2 separate regions of the Homo sapiens genome follow, and region 1 is linked to region 2. The links come from fine-mapping of genetic effects on plasma protein levels. Region 2 holds a variant in brackets. A gene starts in the other region. All regions are shown on their forward strands.

Region 1 (9,671 bases), not on the chromosome of region 2:
AATGGCAGAAGTTTCCCTTGTGACATTGGCCTACAGAGGACAACCACTATGTAGCTCCTCAAGGATGTGGGTTCGCTCAAAAGATGCCTCTCACAGGCTTGGTGAGGAGGGTCTCCTCTGGACTCACTCCCAATAGGAATGCATATATATGTTCATTAAAAGGTATAAGGAAGTTCGTAGCAGCAATTTTATAATCATCTTAAACTGGAAACTGCCCAAAAGTCCATCTGAGGAAGAATAGATAAATAGATGAAAGTATACGCATATAATGGAATATCATGCATCAGAAAGAACGTGGATACAAAAACATAAACTGCATAATCACGATGTGGAATGAAAGAAGACCCAAAGAGTGCATGCTGTTTAATTCTATTTATACCATTTTTAGAAACAGGAAGAACTAATACATGGTGTTAGAACTTGAGATAGTGATTATCTTGCTGGGAATAATGACTAAGTGGTAGCACAAGGGATCTCTGGGATGTGGGTGATGTTCTTTTTCTTGATTTGGGTGCTGATTACACAGGTGTGTTCACTTTTTGAAATTCACGGAGCTATACATGGATGTGTTGTGCACTTTTATGTGTGTATTTATACCTTGATGGAGTAACCAAACAACAAAACCAATACCTGGAGTACCAGGAGATCTAGCTTTACCTAAAACTTAGAAGCTTTCAAAAATATTTCACATTCAACTCTTGCAGAAGTGCCAGCATTTATGATTTGTGGGATTTGAGTAAATGCAAGTATCTATCCATTATGGTTAGCATTGCTGAAAGTGGCTTTGTTTATAGATTGTTAAGCAAAACCACATGGGCCACAGGAAGGAATGCCTCCAATCAGCTGTGGGGTTTCGTGAAGTGTGTGCATGAAGCAGAAGTTTTCAGAGAAAATGGTGAAACGTCCTTGAAAGTGCCTCAGCTGGGAGAGGATCAGAAAAAAATATCTATCGGGTACTATGCTTATTACCTGGGTGACAAAATAATCTGTACACCAAATGTCTGTGACATGTGGTTTACCTATATAACAAATGTGCACATGTACCCCTGAACCTAAAATAAAAGTTTTTTAAAAAATGCATCAGCTAGTTTGGGTACACTCTATATTCTTTCTGTTCCAGGTTTTATCATTTTGAAAGAAGTACAAAATCTCTACGTATGGAACCTGCATTAAATAAATGAGCATCAACATCTCCAGGAGGCACCCCAGGTGTAGACTCCACCTCTCTTACCTCTTCCAGATATTCGAACACCATTATTGATAGCATTCTTGTTTTGATAAGGTTTCTCCTGGCCCACAATCATTCCAGTGAATGGTGCGTACACAGTAGATCCAGCAGAGCACAAGATGTCCACACCCTGGTGAGGCCTCTGACTTCTAGGATGTAAATAAGAACGAACAGACTGAGGAACTGCCTTAGGGGAGCTTTACTGCCTGGGAACATGGTGTTAGCCCACTGTTTGCAGACGAGGTACCAAAGCTTGAAGCTGCCAGAACATGTTGGGATGTCCCAGGATGCCTCACTCTGTTTAGCCCAATTTTAACCTCCCTCCCCGCAGGTGCTAATAACCATATCATAAAGATGAAAGCATTTAAAATGGTACTTGGTACATAATAAGCCTTAAGCAAATATTAGCTACTATTATTTTATGGCATGTTGGGGGAATGAGGCAGTCCATGTAAGTGCATTTTCTAGATACCTAGATCTTGACATCTTCAAGCCCACTTTGAAAACAGCTGTCTTTTTATGGGAACCTATCATAAAAGTATCACATGTTACCCTAGTCTTATTTTTCTTGCAGTGATCTAGAAAAGTGATTGTAAACGTCACTTACTGTATATGGTATTTTAATACAATGAGTGATACCTCCTGGGTTTATTAAAGTGCATGGAGCCCAAATCAAACTATTCTAGATTGTGACGTGCCTTGAGTTCGTCTTAGCAACCCCTCAGCTCTTGCTTCCCGCTGCTGTCACTATGCCTGCTCTCACCAGCCTCCCCTACCTTCTAATAGGCTGTCACCTGAACGATCAGGTTCACCAGGATTGCTGCAATTATGTACAAAGCAACACTGAGCAAGCTCAAGAGCCAAGAATTTACTGTATCAATCAAGTGCATAAACTTTGCAGTATAAGCTGAGTCTGAATTTTGGCAATTCAAGGGACGTTTCCCATATTTCCCTTCTCTTAGTCCTGTTTCAGTATTTGAGGTTGCTTTGTAAGTAGTATCTGTATATGTGAGAGTTCCCCTCTAGTTAGGATGGAGATCAGTGATATGACTGGACACATGGCTATTTCATTAGAAAGTGGCACCCCAAGGTGATGTTGGGTATAACTGAAAATTCACAAGTGTGACCCTCATTTTCTGGAAGAGATAGTGGTGCTTTCTCTCCTGCTTAGGGCCAGCCTCTAATATTCAACATCCAGAGCCTGAGCCAGTAACCGCGTGGTTTGGTGGGAAGAGGAACCAAAAGCCTGAATTCAGGTCCAGGCTTCACCATCTCCAACTGTGCTTGGCAGGTCCCTTAACCCTTTGGTACCTCAGTTAAAGTTTCTCTTCTATAAAATGGGATAGTTGTGTTTAATAACCCTTTGGAAAAAAACAGTTGAGATAAGTGAATGTGTGAAGACATTCAGAAGGAAAACATTGTGTTTGCTCCCTGATCTTTTCCTTCTTCCACATTCTGATCCCAATTTATAGCTCATACTTGAAGCAGAGTTCTTGGAAGCTGCTCCAAAGACAGTGATGTAACTGGTTACATCTCTGGTTTTTCATGCTGTCAGAACTGTGAGCCCTTGAGGCAACCAACGTTGGGCAAGGACACTAAGAAAAGAGGTTAGGGACCAAAGGGTTGGGTGGGTGGTTGTGCAACTTCATACCTTTGAGCAGAGTACTGTCCACAGCCATGGCGGTCACACGTCCGGATCTCATTGGAAGACTTGCCAGCACATATATTAGCCCATGGCCCTGCCAGTGCTAAAAAGGAGAAAAGTGAGAGCAGAGCTCCTGGCCTCAGACATTTCCTATCCCCATTTGCCTTATCAGTCACACAGTTGATCCTGACAATTCTGTTTTCACTGTAGTTTTCCCTGGACTTTATGTATTTATGGGAAGATCGTCCTTCCAGAATTTTATTTCCTGATTCAGATGTAAAATTGGCTTTTTCCCTGGCCACAGAATTCTGCTTTGTGACGTTAGAGTATCAGTGAATACAATTTTTTTTTTTTTTGGATCGGAGTCTCACTCTGTTGCCAAGCTGGAGCACAGTGGCGTGATCTCAGCTGACTTCAACCTCCATCTCCTGGGTTCAAGTGATTCTCCTTCCCCAGCCGCCTGAGTAGCTGGGACTACAGGTGCGCACCACCACACCCAGCTAATTTTTGTATTTTTAGTAGAGACGGAGTTTCACCATGTTGGTCAGGACGGTCTTGATCTCTTGACCTCGTGATCTGCCTGCCTCAGCCTCCCAAAGTGCAGGGATTACAGGCGTGAGCCACTGCGCCCAGCTGAATGTGTTTCTTTATAAGCATTGGCCTCCATCATTATACTTTGCTTCAGATCCATTAGTAAATGGTATAAGTTGTGCTTTTCTATTTTTCTTTGCTCATTATCTGCCATGGGGATCATTATTTTTAGATTAAGCAAAAATAATAAAATAGCATGGCTCAGAAAATAATTTTAGAAATTGTAATTTTGAAATGGTTAGTTCCACTAATCAAATCCAAGCAAATGTTTGAATTAAAGGAGAAACGAACTCTGTACTAGCCAAGTTTGTTTAACACTAGATAAATCTCTCATAGTTGCCAACATGGAAGAGGGAGATTCTTAAAAATAATCTGAAATGTCAAACCAATTTAGCCTAGACTGAGATTAGGGGTGAAGGTAGGAGAAGGAGTAGAACCAATTATATGAAAAATTATGAAACGTGGAGGAGGGGCTGCTTTCTCAGCAGACTTGGTGCAAACTTTGTTTCAGGCACAATTTGTTTCTTTACTATAGTAAGCACTTAATAAATGTTCAATGGAATTAAATGTCCTGGATTTCCAGTGTTAACATTCACAGAGAGATACAGTGAGCACACTCAACCTTGCACTTTGAAACAAACAAGCAAAAGCGAGAGCCTGGTAATTTGACTATTGATTTTATTTAAAGACATTTTACTCTTCATTAATACCTATCCTGTGAAGAGAACCTACAGAATATGGCCATTAAGCCTCTTCTTTAAAATACTTTTAAAAGGTGGGTTTCAAAAGTTTTATGCCTTGGAGCCAAGCTCCAAATCAACACCTTGATCAAGATATAATCCCATCACTTTGGCAACTAATATTTATCCTTGGGAATTGAGGCAAATATCAGACAGTGTAGTAATTTATTCACTTTTTCCTCCTTCGGTGAGTATTAAGGGAGCCATCCCTTTGTCTTAATCCATACCAGTCTCTGTATTAGTATCTGTATCAGAATTTGATTTTGATCAAAATCAGAATCAAATATTTATATCAACTTTTTATTATCTAGTTTTGTTCTAGTTAAGTCCCAGACCCAGACTCAGACTGAAAGGCTTTGTAATGTCTTCTCAACCCACTATTATGTTTCCCTCATTAAAGAACCGGAACATTCCATTTAAATTACTTAAAACATCCTCAGGACCATGTGTCATTCCTATTTCATTTTTAATAGCCAAATACACAAGTCTTTGTTGTGATCATGCTATTAATGACTTTTTAATCTTTTTAGTCTTCCCCTGAAATCAGTTTTTAAAAGTTAATCAATATTCTAAAATTGCACTTTCGACTTACCGGTAGAAATCAGACCAGCCAAAAGGAGGGCTTTGGTGGAAAACATCTGGTTTTACTTCCTTTAGTTTCTTCCTCTGATTAGAGTTGCCCCCACACTCTCTTTGAAGAATATTCAAGTTTGAATGAATACTTCCTAGCTATTTAGCCTTAGAATTCTGCATCTCTCATTTCTTTAGTGTGAGACACAAAAAGTTTAAGAGGATGGAGCAAGTCAAGTTCTAATATTCCATGGATAGCTATTTGATTTGCAGGTAGGGCCTATGTAAAAGCCTTTGATCTGAAGAAGAAGCCAATTATATTGGAAATACTGACTAAATATTAACAGAAAATGATAAGGCTAGGTGCATATCGACAGTCTTCTGGGCTGTGGCTTGTAGGAGAATGTTCGTGCGAATGATGGAATATTTAGTGCTGCCTGCTGGTAGATCTTTCTTTTATTTCCTTGATAGCACATATTTCAGAAGAAAATTGGTCATTAATAATGTGTAGCCCTTCATAACATATTCCTTAATATATCCCTTAGGTGTTTTTGAATTCTCAGTTTAATTATATTTCACCTGTGTAATATTTGCAAATAACTTTAATATTTTAATAAAATTGCATGTATTCACCTTAAATATGTGATTTTTAAATGTTTTCTTGTTTATGATAATGGTAAGTTAACACCATTAAAAGCATCCATCAATAAAGGAAAAAAGATTAATTATAATATAGTCATTGATATGGTTTGGATCTGTGTCCCCACCCAAATCTCATGTTCAATTGTAATCCCCAGTGTTGGAGGTGGGGCCTGGTGAGAGGTGATTGAATTATGGGGCTAGAGTGCTCATGAATGGGTTGGCATCATCCCCTTAGTGCTGTTGTCCTGATAGTGAGTGAGTGAGTTATGGTGAGATCCGGTTGTTTAAAAGTGTGTAGCACCTCCCCTGTTCTCACTTCCTCCTGCTTCAGCCGTGTAAGACATGCCTGCTTGCCCTTTGCCTTCCGCCATGATTTTCAGTTTCCTGAGACGTCCCAAGAAGCTACCATGCTTTCTGTACCTCTTTTCTTTATAAATTACCCAATCTCAGGTATTTCTTTATAGCAATGCAAGAACAGAATAATACAGTCATACAACAGAGTAAAATATAACAATTTAAATGAAGACAATCTACATGTATTAACACAGCTAGATCTCTAGATATACTGTTGAATTAAAAAGCTATTTTTAGAATTATATATATAGTATCATACTATTTATAATATGTAAAATCTGAAAACAAGTATATTAATCTTAATGAATGCTGTATGTATAATAAAAATATGCACAGACTACCTTTAAGGTACTAATTACTTCTGGATAGTGAGAGAAATAAAACCGTGGAAGGATATACAGAGTACATAAACTCTAAAATATTTTATTTCTAAAAAAAGAAAAAAATCAGAAGCAAATATGTTAAAATATTAATTTGTTAATTATTGGAGATAGACACATGGATGTTATGTTACCCTGTACTTTTCTGGGGAATTAAATTTTCAGTGTGTTTCAAATATATGTTAGCAGCTCCTTTTTAGCTTAATATTAGATGAGCACCTGGAATTTTCTATGGAAGCTTCCCCATTTAAATTATGTGCCAGTAGCTGTGGGAGATTGGGATTGTAGCCCCAGTTCTTCACCCTCTCTGCATCCACACCTTTGCCATGTTTCATGGGGGCAAAGGGAACTTTCCTCACCCTTGATTTTGGGTTTAGCTGTGTAGCTTTGACCACTAAGATGAGGCAGAAGTGGCAGTGGGTCGGGAAAGCCTGGGTCTTCTGGGGCCTTAGTCTTTGCACACTCCTTCCTGTGTTTCTACATCGCCGTGAGGCAGATGATCCTGCTGCCCTGGGAAGGGAATGGATGCCATGCAGAGCACAGTTGCCCCTACAAAATCCAGCTTAGTATACCCTATGAATGTATGGGCTTAACTGGCTGTCATTGGAAGCCACTGAGTTTTGGTGTGGTATGTCACACAACAATAACTAAACGATGCCAATGAGATTATGCACCTAATTGTTTTTGCTTCACACACAACCTTTCAAGGAGGCATCTAATGTATACAATATAGAATGCCAACGCATTGAATACATCAAGGATCTGAGTCAATGTACTGAAAGAATAGGTTAGTGAAACAAAACAGATGATTCAGAAATAGGCACAAATATATACAGCATGTAGTATACAATAGAAGTCATACTTTAAATGATTAGAGGAAATATAAGTCATTCTATTAACTGTATTGAGACAACAACTGGCAAGAAATAAAAGTGCAGTCTAGGCGTGGTGGCTCATGCATGTAATCCTAGCACTTTGTGAGGCCTGTGCGGGAGGATCACTTGAGGCCAGGAGATCGAGACGAGCCTAGGCAACATAGCAAAACCCCATTCCTACAAAACATTTTTAAAACTTAGTCAGGCATGGTGTGTGTGTACGCAGTCCTAGCTACTTGGGAGGCTGAGGCAGAAGGAATATTTGAATCCAGGAGTTTGAAGTTACAGTGAGCTACGATCATGCCACTGCACTCCACCCTGGGTAAGATAGTGAGACCCTGTCTCAAAATAAATAAATAAATAAAAGTTCAATCCATATCAAAGTGAACCAAACATTTGTATGCAAAAGGAGAGAAAGAGGGAGGAGGAGGAAAGAAAGAAAAGAAATGAACTGAAACCATAGAAATACTAGGAGAAATTATGAATGATTTTTAATGGTCTTGGTATGGGTTGGACTTTTCAAAGAATGTTAAAAAACCCAGAAGTGCTGAAGGAAATATTTGATAAATGCGTTATAACAATAATAAAAAAAACTTTCTACAAAGCCAACAGTATCCTGATCAGAGTCAAAAGATAATAATCTGAAAAAAATATCTATAACCCATATAATATGACAGATAAGGAACTCATCTCCCTAATATATAAAGAATTCTTTAAAAAAATAAAAGGTGTAAACAAATTGATAGAAAAATGGGCAAAGGCCAGGCGCGGTGGCTCACACCTGTAATCCCAGCACTTTGGGAGGCCGAGGCAGGCGGATCACGAGGTCAGGAGTTCGAGACCAGCCTGGCCAACATGGCGAAACCCCATCTCTACTAGAAATACAAAAATTAGCCAGATGTGGTGACAGACACCTGTAATCTCAGCTTCTTGGGAGGCTGAGGCAGGAGAATCGCTTGAACCTGGGAGGCGGAGTTTGCAGTGAGCCGAGATTGTGCCATTGCATTCCAGCCTGGGCAACAAGAGCAAGACTCCGTCTCAAAAGAAAAAAAAAAGAAAAATGGGCAAAAGATAGCAGCAGACTTTCCTAAAAGAAAAAATACAGATTACCAATATGTATTTGAAAATATGATCCACTTCACTTAAAATTAACAATTGTAAACCAGAATGAGGTGTAGTTTTTCACCCATCAAATTGACAAAGGTATGTAGAAACATTTATTGAAAAGTGTAAGTTGGTTTAACCTCTTTAGAGTACAATTTTGCAATACCCCTCACATTTTTAAATGCACAAAACCTTTGCTCCAGCAATGCTATTGTTTTCCTACCTGTGGCCTGCTTTCCTCCTATTTTCCCTGCCTTCTGCATTAACTGTTTCCAATGTATCTTCCCCTCTGAAGCCAGTGCCGTCCTCTAAACTGCAGAAGAGATGGTAGGAGACTCTTTTGAAACCCGTAATGGGATAGGATCTGAGCAATGTCATCAATGCTGAAAAGCTGATGAGAAACTTTGTAATGGATGGATCAGGCTGATGATACCTAATCAATCGTATTGTTAAGAAGAGAGAGAAGGAGAGAGTATATCAGACATTTTATACCTCCTGTTGGAAATGCACAACACAACCTATAAAGTATTCTTGTCAAAAAATCAGGCTAAAGTCTTATAAGGCCATTAGCTCTAACTTTCAGTTTACAGGAACTATGCAGCACAGGGATGCATGTTAAATGTACCACAAGAATGCAGTCAGACAAATGCAGGCTGTAGGAAGTTCTACCAGATAAAGAACCTGGTTTCTTCAACAAATAAATTCTGAGGAAAGGAAAATAGAGAGAGGGGCAATCTGTGGATTAGAAGAGATTTACAAGATTTATCAACAAAATGCCGTGTATGGACTTTACTTGGAGTCTGAATCAAATGAGGAAATGATAGACAGAGAGAAACAGAGAATAGGGACAATTTTAACACTACTTGATGATATTAGAAATTATTCTGTGTAATTTTAAGCATAATACATTAGGTGTTTGTAAAAAGTTCCTATCTTTTAGAAATACATACTGAAACATTTATGGGTATGAAATCATAGGATGTTTCAGATTTGCTTCAAAATAATCCAGGAGTTAGGAGAGTAGGTAGCATATAGATTAAACACAATTGGCTATGAACTGCTAATTACTGAAGCTGGGTAATGAGTACGCAGAAGTTTACTATACTATCCTCTCCAGTTTGTTTATATTTGAAAGTTTTCCCATAGCAACAAGTTAAATAAAGACATTTGTTGGACAATTAATTTGTTGGCAATATCTTTTGAACATAAAAAAGTTCCCATACAGCAAGGAAAAACTGATTTTTCTGTAACCTTGGTAATATTTAGCCACCTATATTTTAAACCCTTTAATCAGTCAATGACAACCCACGTCTGGTAAACATGCTCTTCAAAACAACCAATCAATAACAGCCCCTTGCTTCTGACTTTCAGCCAATTAGGGACAGACTCACTCTAGTAAGTGATTCCCAGCCAATCAACAACAGTCTTACCTGAGCACCATGTCTTTTAATCCGTCAAACCTCTAACATTCCGAAAGTTCACAAACCCCCGAACTCCCAGCTTCCCAAATCCATACATAAATAAGATGAACAGGCTGCTCTG
Region 2 (9,671 bases):
TGGCACTAGTGATGCTGGAAGTGCTCCCAAGAAGCAGAGAAAAGTCATGACATTTGACATTACAAGAAAAACTGGATTTGCTTGATATGTAACAGAGACTGAGGTCTGTAGCTGGGGTTGCTTCCATTTCAGACAGATGATTCATCTTGTAAACAGGTGGTGTAAACTTACTGTATGGAAAAATACATAACAGTACCACAGATGTATTTTCTCCTTACGAACATTTCCTTTTCTCTAGCTTACTTTATTGTAAGAATACAGTATATCATACATATAACATACAAAATACATGTTATTAACTGTTGCTGGTCAACAGCAGGCTGTTAGTAGTTAAGTTTTTGAGAGTCAGAGTTATACCTGGATTTTCTACTGTGTATGGTCAGTGTGCCAACCCCTGAAATTGATCAAGGGTCAACTGTAATCCTAAAAGAATCTAATACAATATTGTAAACAGTAAGTGGTCAATAAATAAGGAATTGAACTAATAAGAATACATAAATCCCAGAATATGTGCAACCTGATCATAGTACACAGAGATCTCTCTATATATCTCTTTTCTTAGTTCATGCTGTTCTTTCAGGTAGAAAGCGCCTTATTTTGAATTAGTTGTCTTTAGAGCAAAAATCCCTCCAAGAGTGCTGTGTGGTTTCCTATGCACAACCTGGAATAGTCCATTGCTTCATGCCTACCCTGGACATGAAGGGCCATGCCGCAGCGGAAGTCTCTATGCACCCACCCCCGTCTATACCTGAGCAACACATTCCTCTTTGCTGCTCTCTTACAGGCTACAGAGTGCGGTGGCGCCAGCACAGAGCTCTGCTCAACGTCCCTCTGTGCTTTCACGATGCTGATGGATTATGAAGGTAGGGAAGAATGTACAGCCAGGAGGCCATTAGGAGGGCAACTAATTTATAAAATCACATTTGTAGAATTTAATGCATCCAACAACTACCAGGGGAAAGGTGGGCAAAAGCTATACCAACACCACCCAAGTCAAAACCAAAACAACAGGAAAAGAAAATTATGTGGATGTAGAATTTCTGATAACATCATTCCCAAGGTGCCTTATCCAAGAGGAACTGCTACAATAATATTTTAAGTGGAAATAAATACATGCTGGAAGCATTATATATTAGTAGAGTATTTTTTTTTCCCAGAGTACTTTCTCAAGCACATCAACATGAGCCCCCTAAGAGACATTTCACATTAAAAATAAAATGTCTGCCCACTGCTGGTTTCTCAATCTGCCTCCACCTTCTGTCCCCTTTAATGAACTGGGCCATGAGGTGAGTCAGAGAGGATAAAGGGAGTGGTAAGAATTTGAGGAGAGAAGAGAGTGAGGCTAAAATAGGAAATCAGGAAAAGCGATTCGGTCCCCCTGTCCCTCACATGGGGCCACCCTCTTGTTGCCCAGTGTGGCTTCTTCTTGAGGGTTCTGCATGGTTCCTCAATCCCAGGGAATTCCGCAGGACATTCCACCCAAGACCATTGGGCTCCCACCTCTACTCTTTTGCCAGTTAATGAATAGGCAGGAATTTCACTGCCTGGAAAGAGGAACAATGCTTTCTGGTCCTTATTTCACATCTAAAATAGAGAGGTCAATTGATTTATTCCTAAATATCTTTGAACACTAAAATAGAAGTTTTACAGCATATATACTACCTGGTTGCTCTAGACTTAAGCCAGGGAAAAGTACAGATTCAACATTTAAAATTGAGATAGACGCTTTCCACTTAATGCTACCAGTCTTGCTTTATTTCATGAGAATGAGAATATAATAATATGGCATACGTTCATTTGGGGGAAAGATTGATGTCTTATAACATAATTTATAATTACAGAAAACATGTGAGTTCACTGGGAATAAATAAATTTTGAAGATAATAAGATACTTTCACTTATGTCGTAATTTCTATGTCATTTGGTGTAGGATGTAGAGATATTAACGTTTACACCTAACTTAAGTTTGTCATCTAAGACCTGAAGGGGTTTTGTCTATCAGCTGCACCCCTGGGTAGAGACACAACCTTGGGGAAGGCCTCAGCCCCATCCCTCGTACAGCAGGAATGAGAACAGCCCTGCCTGTTGGGAAGCTTGAGGGAGGCTATGGACGTGCAGCGCTTGGCAGAGGGTCTCGTCATGGAAGGTTCCAGCAAATGTGAGATACTTTTATGATTTCATTTTCTCCAAAAGAAAGGGAATAAGAGAAGAGGGGAGGAAATAAGACTAATTGCGAGAGATAAAGTACAAGGGTGAGGGAAGGAATAAGGAGACATGACGGCAGCGTGGAGCAGCCGAGGGGGGAGATTGCTTTCACCACTTCCCAGCATCTATTGCAGATTCCACCCTCAAACATGTTGTAAGGACTCTTTATTCAAGGTAATGTTTGAACCCTGCTGAGCCAGTGGCATGGGTCTCTGAGAGAATCATTAACTTAATTTGACTATCTGGTTTGTGGATGCGTTTACTCTCATGTAAGTCAACAACATCCTGGGATTGGGACCCACTTTCTGGGCACTGCTGGCCAGTCCCAAAATGGAACATAAGGAAGTGGTTCTTCTACTTCTTTTATTTCTGAAATCAGGTAAGACATAGTTTTTTTAAATTATAAGAATTATTTTTTCTCCCACAATGTAGTAAAAATACATATGCCATGGCTTTATGTGCAATTCATTTAATTTTTGATTCATGAAACTTCCAGTTGAAAATCTTGTATAAGATTGAGGAATTCTTCAAGAAATAAGTTTAAGTTTCCTGTGAAGATTGTCAGGGTGCTGGAATGAATGGGCAGAGAAAATAATGGGTGATTTTTCAAATCTAAATGAGTGCACCCACATAATGGCCAGTCTAATTGAAAAAGAGCCAATGTAGCTAATTATGCAAAGGACGGCTAAGCTCTTTGCCTGGTTCTCAGTTTGACTAATTTATATCATCTCTGTTACGGTGTCATGCTCCCCTCACTTGCAAGTTAAAACAGTGAAATATCTCTTTGAATATATTCCGTTCTCTCACCAGTTCATGGTGGCGGCAGGGTCGGGGACTCAGCATTTCTCCCTTTGTTATGGCCTGAGGAAGGCTTTCCATCAGTATACGTTTGCCTCTTATCCCCGGAAAAATCACACGCATCCATTTGCCAGATGCTGTGTGCAGATAGTGATCAACAAATACTCAGTTGCTTGGGTTAGGTCCCTACATTTTTACACATACATACATACCTGTGTGTGAATGTGAGTGTGAGTGTGTATCCTTTACAAATACTAGCTTATTTAGCTCGTGGTATAGGTAGGGTAGCATATTCATCCTCATTTTATAAACAAAGAAATCAGACTTAGGAATATCATGTTATTTGCTCAGTGACCAAATTCTCAGATCTGGGAAATAAAGAAAACTGGATTTAAGCCAGGTTTCCCAGAAGGAATCTAGGGCTCTTCTCACTTTTCAGCTTTGTTTAAGCCTTTGAAAGAATATTCTAAACATGTCCTAGTACTTCTTTTTCTTTAAAAAAAAAAAAGCTTTATTGAGATATAATTAACATATAGAATTCACCCATTTAGGCATACAATCCAATGGATTTCAAGATATTGAGAGTTGTGCAGCCACCATCAGAATAAATTTTAAAACTATTCATACCCCCAAAAACGCACTCCACTCTCCTTAGCTGTTACCCCCAATCTGCAGCTTCTGGCAACCACTAATCTACTTTCTGTATTTATATCTTTGCCATTTTGAACATTTCATACAAACGGAATCATACGATTTGCTAGTAGTTCTTCATGTAAATAATGTACGCTTGAAATTCAATCTATAAATTACCAGATAAAATTTTACAAGTTGCACTTTAGAGTCAAATACATTTGAATTTAGTGGAAGCCATTCAAGGAGCTATCAAAGAAAATACAGAGCAGGAGAAAATTAAAGAAATTTTTGTAAGAAATTGGTGTATGTTGGGGGGTATGAATATTATATTTCAATGCATGGAAACTAGGACATAGATCACTATGAACTTATTCAGTGGGCTACACCCAAAGGCTAGATCAAACTTCTCTGCCACAGGATTAACATATGTTTTAACCCACCTGGTGGGCACATTCTCTCATAAGCTCTTTTGGAAAGCCAGGTTTTCTGTGGATGTATCATCTTTCCAGTGTGCTGCAATGCCCGGGGAGAGGGAAAAGTTTCTTTTACAGCCATGCTTAGTGGGAAGTGGAGAAACATCTTCCATTTCACAAATTAAGTCTTTTACACATGCAAATATGCATACACATTCACACACCACAGTGAGGAAGAAATTCTCACACCATTAATAAAATACATTTGCATCAGTAGCAATATACATCTGCATTTTGCCTATAATATAAATGTATTTTTCCACTAAAAGATTTGTTTGATGTTTCCTTGCCAGCAAATAAGCCCTATCAAATCCTATTGCCATATGAGTCCTAGAGGTGAATAAGAGAAGAAAAAATGGGGGAAAATTATTTCAAACTGAAAAGAGAAAAGTTTGATTCTGTTTTGGGATATTTCCTAGGGACATGAGCTGGGGAGGGGATCTCAGCAGCGATGCGCTATGAAGCATAGTAACATAACACAGAGAACTTAATTGAAGGGGGAAATAAATGGAAGTTTTCTTTTTTTGAATATCAGTTGTAGCC[T/C]GCTCTGCTATACTTCAAAAAAACTCTTCAGAAAGTTTAACTGAACTCACTGTAGGACACACTTTGTGGATTTATTGTGTGTTTTGAAGTCACACTGTGAGCTATATAGAATTAACCAAAACACAACTCTTCTTGAAAATGAGAGTTCAAGTTGGCAGAAAGTGCGGGGTAAAGACATGGATATGGGCCTAAAGCATCTATTTCTTTGTGATCTTTTGATATATCTCTCAAGTGCTTTTTAGTGGATTAGCTTTAGAATGCATCAGCCAACTCCTGCTCAATAATCCATTTTTCCAGCCCGGAATGTCTTAAATTGAGGAAGGACAAAGTCCCAGAGGTGGGGAGCAGGGGGACTTTGGCCGAGGACTTTGCATGAATCGATGAGCATGCATCCACCTCCCTGTCCTGCCCCTTGTGCTCTGTGTACCCTCAGGAGGTCAGGACAGGCCTTTCTGAGAATGAAAATCTGTTCATTTGCTTTCCTACTGGATACTTGTCATCAGCATACAAACCAATGCGCTCTGCAGTGTGTCATCTTTCAGAACCTCCCCTGACCGCATGTTCCCTGGAGGGCTCGCTGTCTTCAGAGCCAGGCTTGTCTCCTGCTGCAGCCTCCACTGCTCTCCTAGTCACTCTGTAACCCACCCCCTCTGCCTGCGGCCCCCACCACGCCCCTCAAAGTGGTCAAGGTTGTCCTGTTGTCTAATTCCATGGAGCTTGCCTGTCTTCATTTTATTAGCCTCTTTTGGCCTCTCACCCTTGTGCAAATCACTAGCATTCTGTGCCAAGGACGGAGCTGGCATCTCCAGGCTTGGAATAGAGCTACCAAAGCTCAGCCAGATGTCTGGAAGAGCCTCAGGACAAGGGGACACCCTGTAGCCTTGTGGTGGGAGCACAGCTGAGGCCCCCTTGGCCACCCTCTGCCACGACCAGGCAGAAAGCAGCTTTCGGACAGATTCGTTGTCTCAGATTTGATCTCAAAGAAAAACCAAGACCAGTATTTGTCCCAGGTCCTGCTTTTTTACAATTTCCTCCGAAATCCAGATACCTGTCAACACCTTGGAAAAACTGACTTCTCCCCAATTAGTAGTGTTGTGTGACTGTCATAAGCCCAGTACAAAAATGGCCTTCTTTGTTGGGGAGCTTCTTACCCTCCAGTGTTTTGCCCAATTTTTGTCCAAGGTGGCAACATAATTTAGTTCAGTTCTTGTTTATTTCCACCATCATCTATGCACCAAAATTTATGTTTCTCAAGGAGGGACCATTCAGAGGATGCTTCCCACCGGTTCAAGTGACAGTGCCAGAACCAAAGCGCATATTGTAGGAAATCAAACAATGGCCTCCAAGTTCCATTTCTACCCAGGGATGAACAAATCAACATCAATCTTGGTAACACAACTGCCACTGATGGTGCCTTACTCTTCTCTCATGACATGGCACAATCAATAGCAAACATAAAATTTGTTCTTGTTTAAGGATTTATATCCACTAATATGGTAACATAGTAGTGGTTCCATAGTTCTAACCTGTTTGTCAATCCAGTTAATCTTTTACTATCTTGCAATCTGCTAATGAAACTGTTTTTCTTTGTTTTATAATTTCAACTTTTAGAGTCAGGGGTACATGTGCAGGTGTGTTACATAACTAAATTGCGTGACACTGAGCTTTGGGGTACAAATGATCCCATCACCCAGGTAGTGAGCTAAATACCTACTAAATAGGTAGTTTTTCAGCCCTTGCCTTGCTCCCTCTCTCCCTTCTCTGGTAGTCCCCAGTGTCTTTAGTTGCCATCTTTATTTATGTCCAAATGCCCGACTGTGTGTTCTTAACTAAACATTTTGATTCATAGCTACCCATTCTACTTCCAGTAAACAGAAAGTTTTATTTGGTTAATGCTAACCAAATAGATTAAAAGGAAGTCATGACAATTAGACATTGACATTGATTTACTGACCATTTATTCCACTTGGATCTCCCACCTCTAGGTCAAGGAGAGCCTCTGGATGACTATGTGAATACCCAGGGGGCTTCACTGTTCAGTGTCACTAAGAAGCAGCTGGGAGCAGGAAGTATAGAAGAATGTGCAGCAAAATGTGAGGAGGACGAAGAATTCACCTGCAGGTATTTCCATTGTCGTTGCACCTACGCAGGAATCTGTAATTCAGATGGCAAGTAATTTACTCACAAATTTATTAATGATTTAAGAGGAAAGAGAAATTTATGGAGCCAGAGTTTGGAACTATATTTGCTCACAGTATGTGAAGCCATACTAACAGCTTCTTGTTAAGGTTTATTGGAGTCTTTGTTAGAAAAATACCCTCAAAGGAAGTTATTTGTTTTTACACCGGACACAAACATTAGCAGTTATTGTTCTGAGCTCCAGTTTTCAACATCATCATCAGTAAATGTTTGTTGAGGATCAGGTGAATGAAAGTGTCCTAGATAGATCTGAGCAATGACTTATAGCTACAAGATCCAGTGCCTGCCCTTTAGTATTTAAGGTGTAGTCAAAGAAACTGGATATAATGTTAAAAAAAAAAAAAAGACAGCCCAAGTGAGGTACAGGCATAATCAATGCATGCTCTACCCAGATCCAGAAGAAAGAACAGTGCCTAAGGTTGAGGCAGCTAGAGAAGGCTCAGGGAGGAGGTGGGAACTGAGCTGGGTTTGGAGTTGAGAGAGCTCTTGACAAGCACCAGGAAGGCAGGGGAAGATGCGGCCCTGCACCTTCTGAGGGGGACCATTAAGAGATGAAGTTGACTAAAGCAGAGACTTTGTGTAGGTGACGGGCTTGGGAAGGTAGCTATGGAATCCAGACTGAGCACCCATAGCAGGACCACGGGATGGAGATGGGAGGGGTCAGGGGCCAGGGTGGGGTGGAATGTGGAGCAGAGGTTCAGGGGAACTGATCAGAGTTGGGAGGTCATGGAGACGGACTATCTTGGCGAATGGGTTCAAAGCAACCAGAGTTGCTTCTTTCCAACCCAAAAACAAAAATTAAGAAGATGAGTGAAGAAGAAGTAAAGCAGTTGAAACAGGAAGAAAGGGAAAATTATGAGGGAGGGAAGGTAAGGGCAGATAAGATTTGCTGCCACGTTGGTGTATTTTGTTCAGTACTTCATCGATGCCATGCCCAAATAACTGAAAGAGGCAGCAATTCTGAGCTCTCTGGTCCCTCAAGATATTCAATGATCTTTAGCATGTCTCACTTATTAATAAACATTTGTTTTCTTTAAATAAAGAAAAATACTTATTGGATTTCCTGCTTCGTTCTGCAGGGCATTCCAATATCACAGTAAAGAGCAACAATGTGTGATAATGGCTGAAAACAGGAAGTCCTCCATAATCATTAGGATGAGAGATGTAGTTTTATTTGAAAAGAAAGGTGAGTACATTTTCTTCCTCCTCCTCCTACTGTCCTCCCCATCCTCCCACTCTTCCTCTTTCTCTATTCTATCTTTAATTTATAAGACCAGAGGAGGAAGGCACTATCGTGTTATAAAACTGAATTCTGAGTTAGGACAGGATTTGATTACTAACTAACCATGTCAGCTTGAGTGTATTACTTCACCTCTTAGATTTAATTTTTTTTGTTCAAAAGATGAAAGGATTAGATTTACAAAATCACTTCTACCTCTATGACCCTGAAAATAAGATTTTTAAAATATTATTTTATATTTAACAAGGAGATGGGAAGTCTAAGCATTCCTTTTGGTCTTGGCTTCTTATTCTGCAGGGTGACCATGGTCCTTGGGCCCTAACATCTGGATGAAGCCTTGTAAAACAGAAATACTGAGGTGTTTTAATCCTCAGAAACATTTAGATTGGGACACAAATCTTATTTTTACTCTTAAATTTTTCACATTTTGGGGGACATGGTCTATATTTTTCTCAGATTTCTGAAATGTTGTCTTTTAAAAATGTGTAAAAGTTACAGTTCCTTTTCTATAGTTTATTTTAAAATGTGGGTCAATAGTCCCACTGCTTAGAATAAGAGGCAGACAGGATTTCAATAGAAATTGCATGCCTTTTTAGATGTGCAAATGTTTCATTAAGCATTTCCCATCAAGTATATCCCATCAAGTATGCTCCCATTAAGCATATCCCATCAAGTATAAATATTTGAAGGGATGCATGACACTTTAAAAACTGTTTCCTCTACTGTGTTGGTAGCCAGGTATTAAGACTGTTAATAGTAACAATTTAGCTCTCCAAACATTCTGCATCCCAGGTGTTAAAGAGGACTGGAAACACCTTAGTTCTTGTATTCTTGAGGATGATTTGCCATATTGTGTCTAGTATTACGGCAAAACTCTAAGTAGCATTTTAAATAGTATTTATTTGGGTTGGAATTATTTCTATGCATTGACTCATCTTCCTGGGTTTCATTAGCTGTACGCATTGTACTTCCTTCCTTACCACTATTTATCTCGAATTCTTGAGATTAAAGTGCAGATTAAATCTAAACTTTATCTGGTGAAGTTATTAGTTCTTACAAGTAGCAAGCAAACGGTAAACTAAATAGGATCACCTAATTGTACCAGATTTTAAAAAAAAAAAACCCTGATTCTCCTGATTCTCTCTACAAAATGCTAACATTTAAATATGTCATTTGTAAATTGTTAACCAGAAGGAACATGGGAATGACTGTAGGTTGAGTTTGAAGTCTGAAGTTTGAAGGCTTAGTTTGCTTGTTTTCAAAGTGACAGAAGGGAGCAAAAGGTTATATAAACTCTGATGGGTACATACAAAAAAAAAAGAAGTGAAAAGTCAAAAGTCAGTCATTTTTTGGTCCTTGTTTCTTTGCTGTGGGATATTGACCTGCTACTAACTTACCTGCCAGGGTTTTGCCAGGAACAGTCAGTGTTAGATCACATTTACTTCTGCCACTTGCCACCAGCCACACTGCCTTCACCAAGTCCAAGACCCTATCACCACTGGTTGGGGCTACTTGTAGCTGTACACATGATCTCTAAGAAATGTAACTTCCCTGTTTAAAGCCCTTCCTAGTGCCCTTAA

Direction of the effects. Positions count from the first base shown, and alleles are read on the strand shown. Strength reflects both the effect of a copy and how common the allele is.
As copies of T replace C in region 2, the plasma level of the protein whose gene starts at base 4,992 in region 1 goes up (weak association).

The links. PIP is the chance, under the fine-mapping model, that this variant and not a neighbour inherited with it causes the effect. Protein levels are from antibody-based Olink assays in UK Biobank. Linkage for the fine-mapping came from a reference panel and not from the study's own genotypes, which makes the PIPs less certain.
Region 1: LECT2 starts here. The variant in region 2 is fine-mapped to the plasma level of the LECT2 protein (UK Biobank, PIP 0.99).

Annotation. Positions count from the first base shown.
Region 1 is chr5:135,949,992-135,959,662 of GRCh38, forward strand. LECT2 (leukocyte cell derived chemotaxin 2) reads right to left here and starts at 4,992. Exons shown (of 4, transcript NM_002302.3): 1 at 4,797-4,992; 2 at 2,880-2,976; 3 at 1,232-1,377. The coding sequence starts at 4,842.
Region 2 is chr6:160,699,770-160,709,440 of GRCh38, forward strand. It overlaps PLG (plasminogen), which reads left to right and starts at 2,475. Exons shown (of 19, transcript NM_000301.5): 1 at 2,475-2,584; 2 at 6,638-6,773; 3 at 7,931-8,037. The coding sequence starts at 2,536. The variant T/C (reference allele first, on the strand shown) is at 4,653.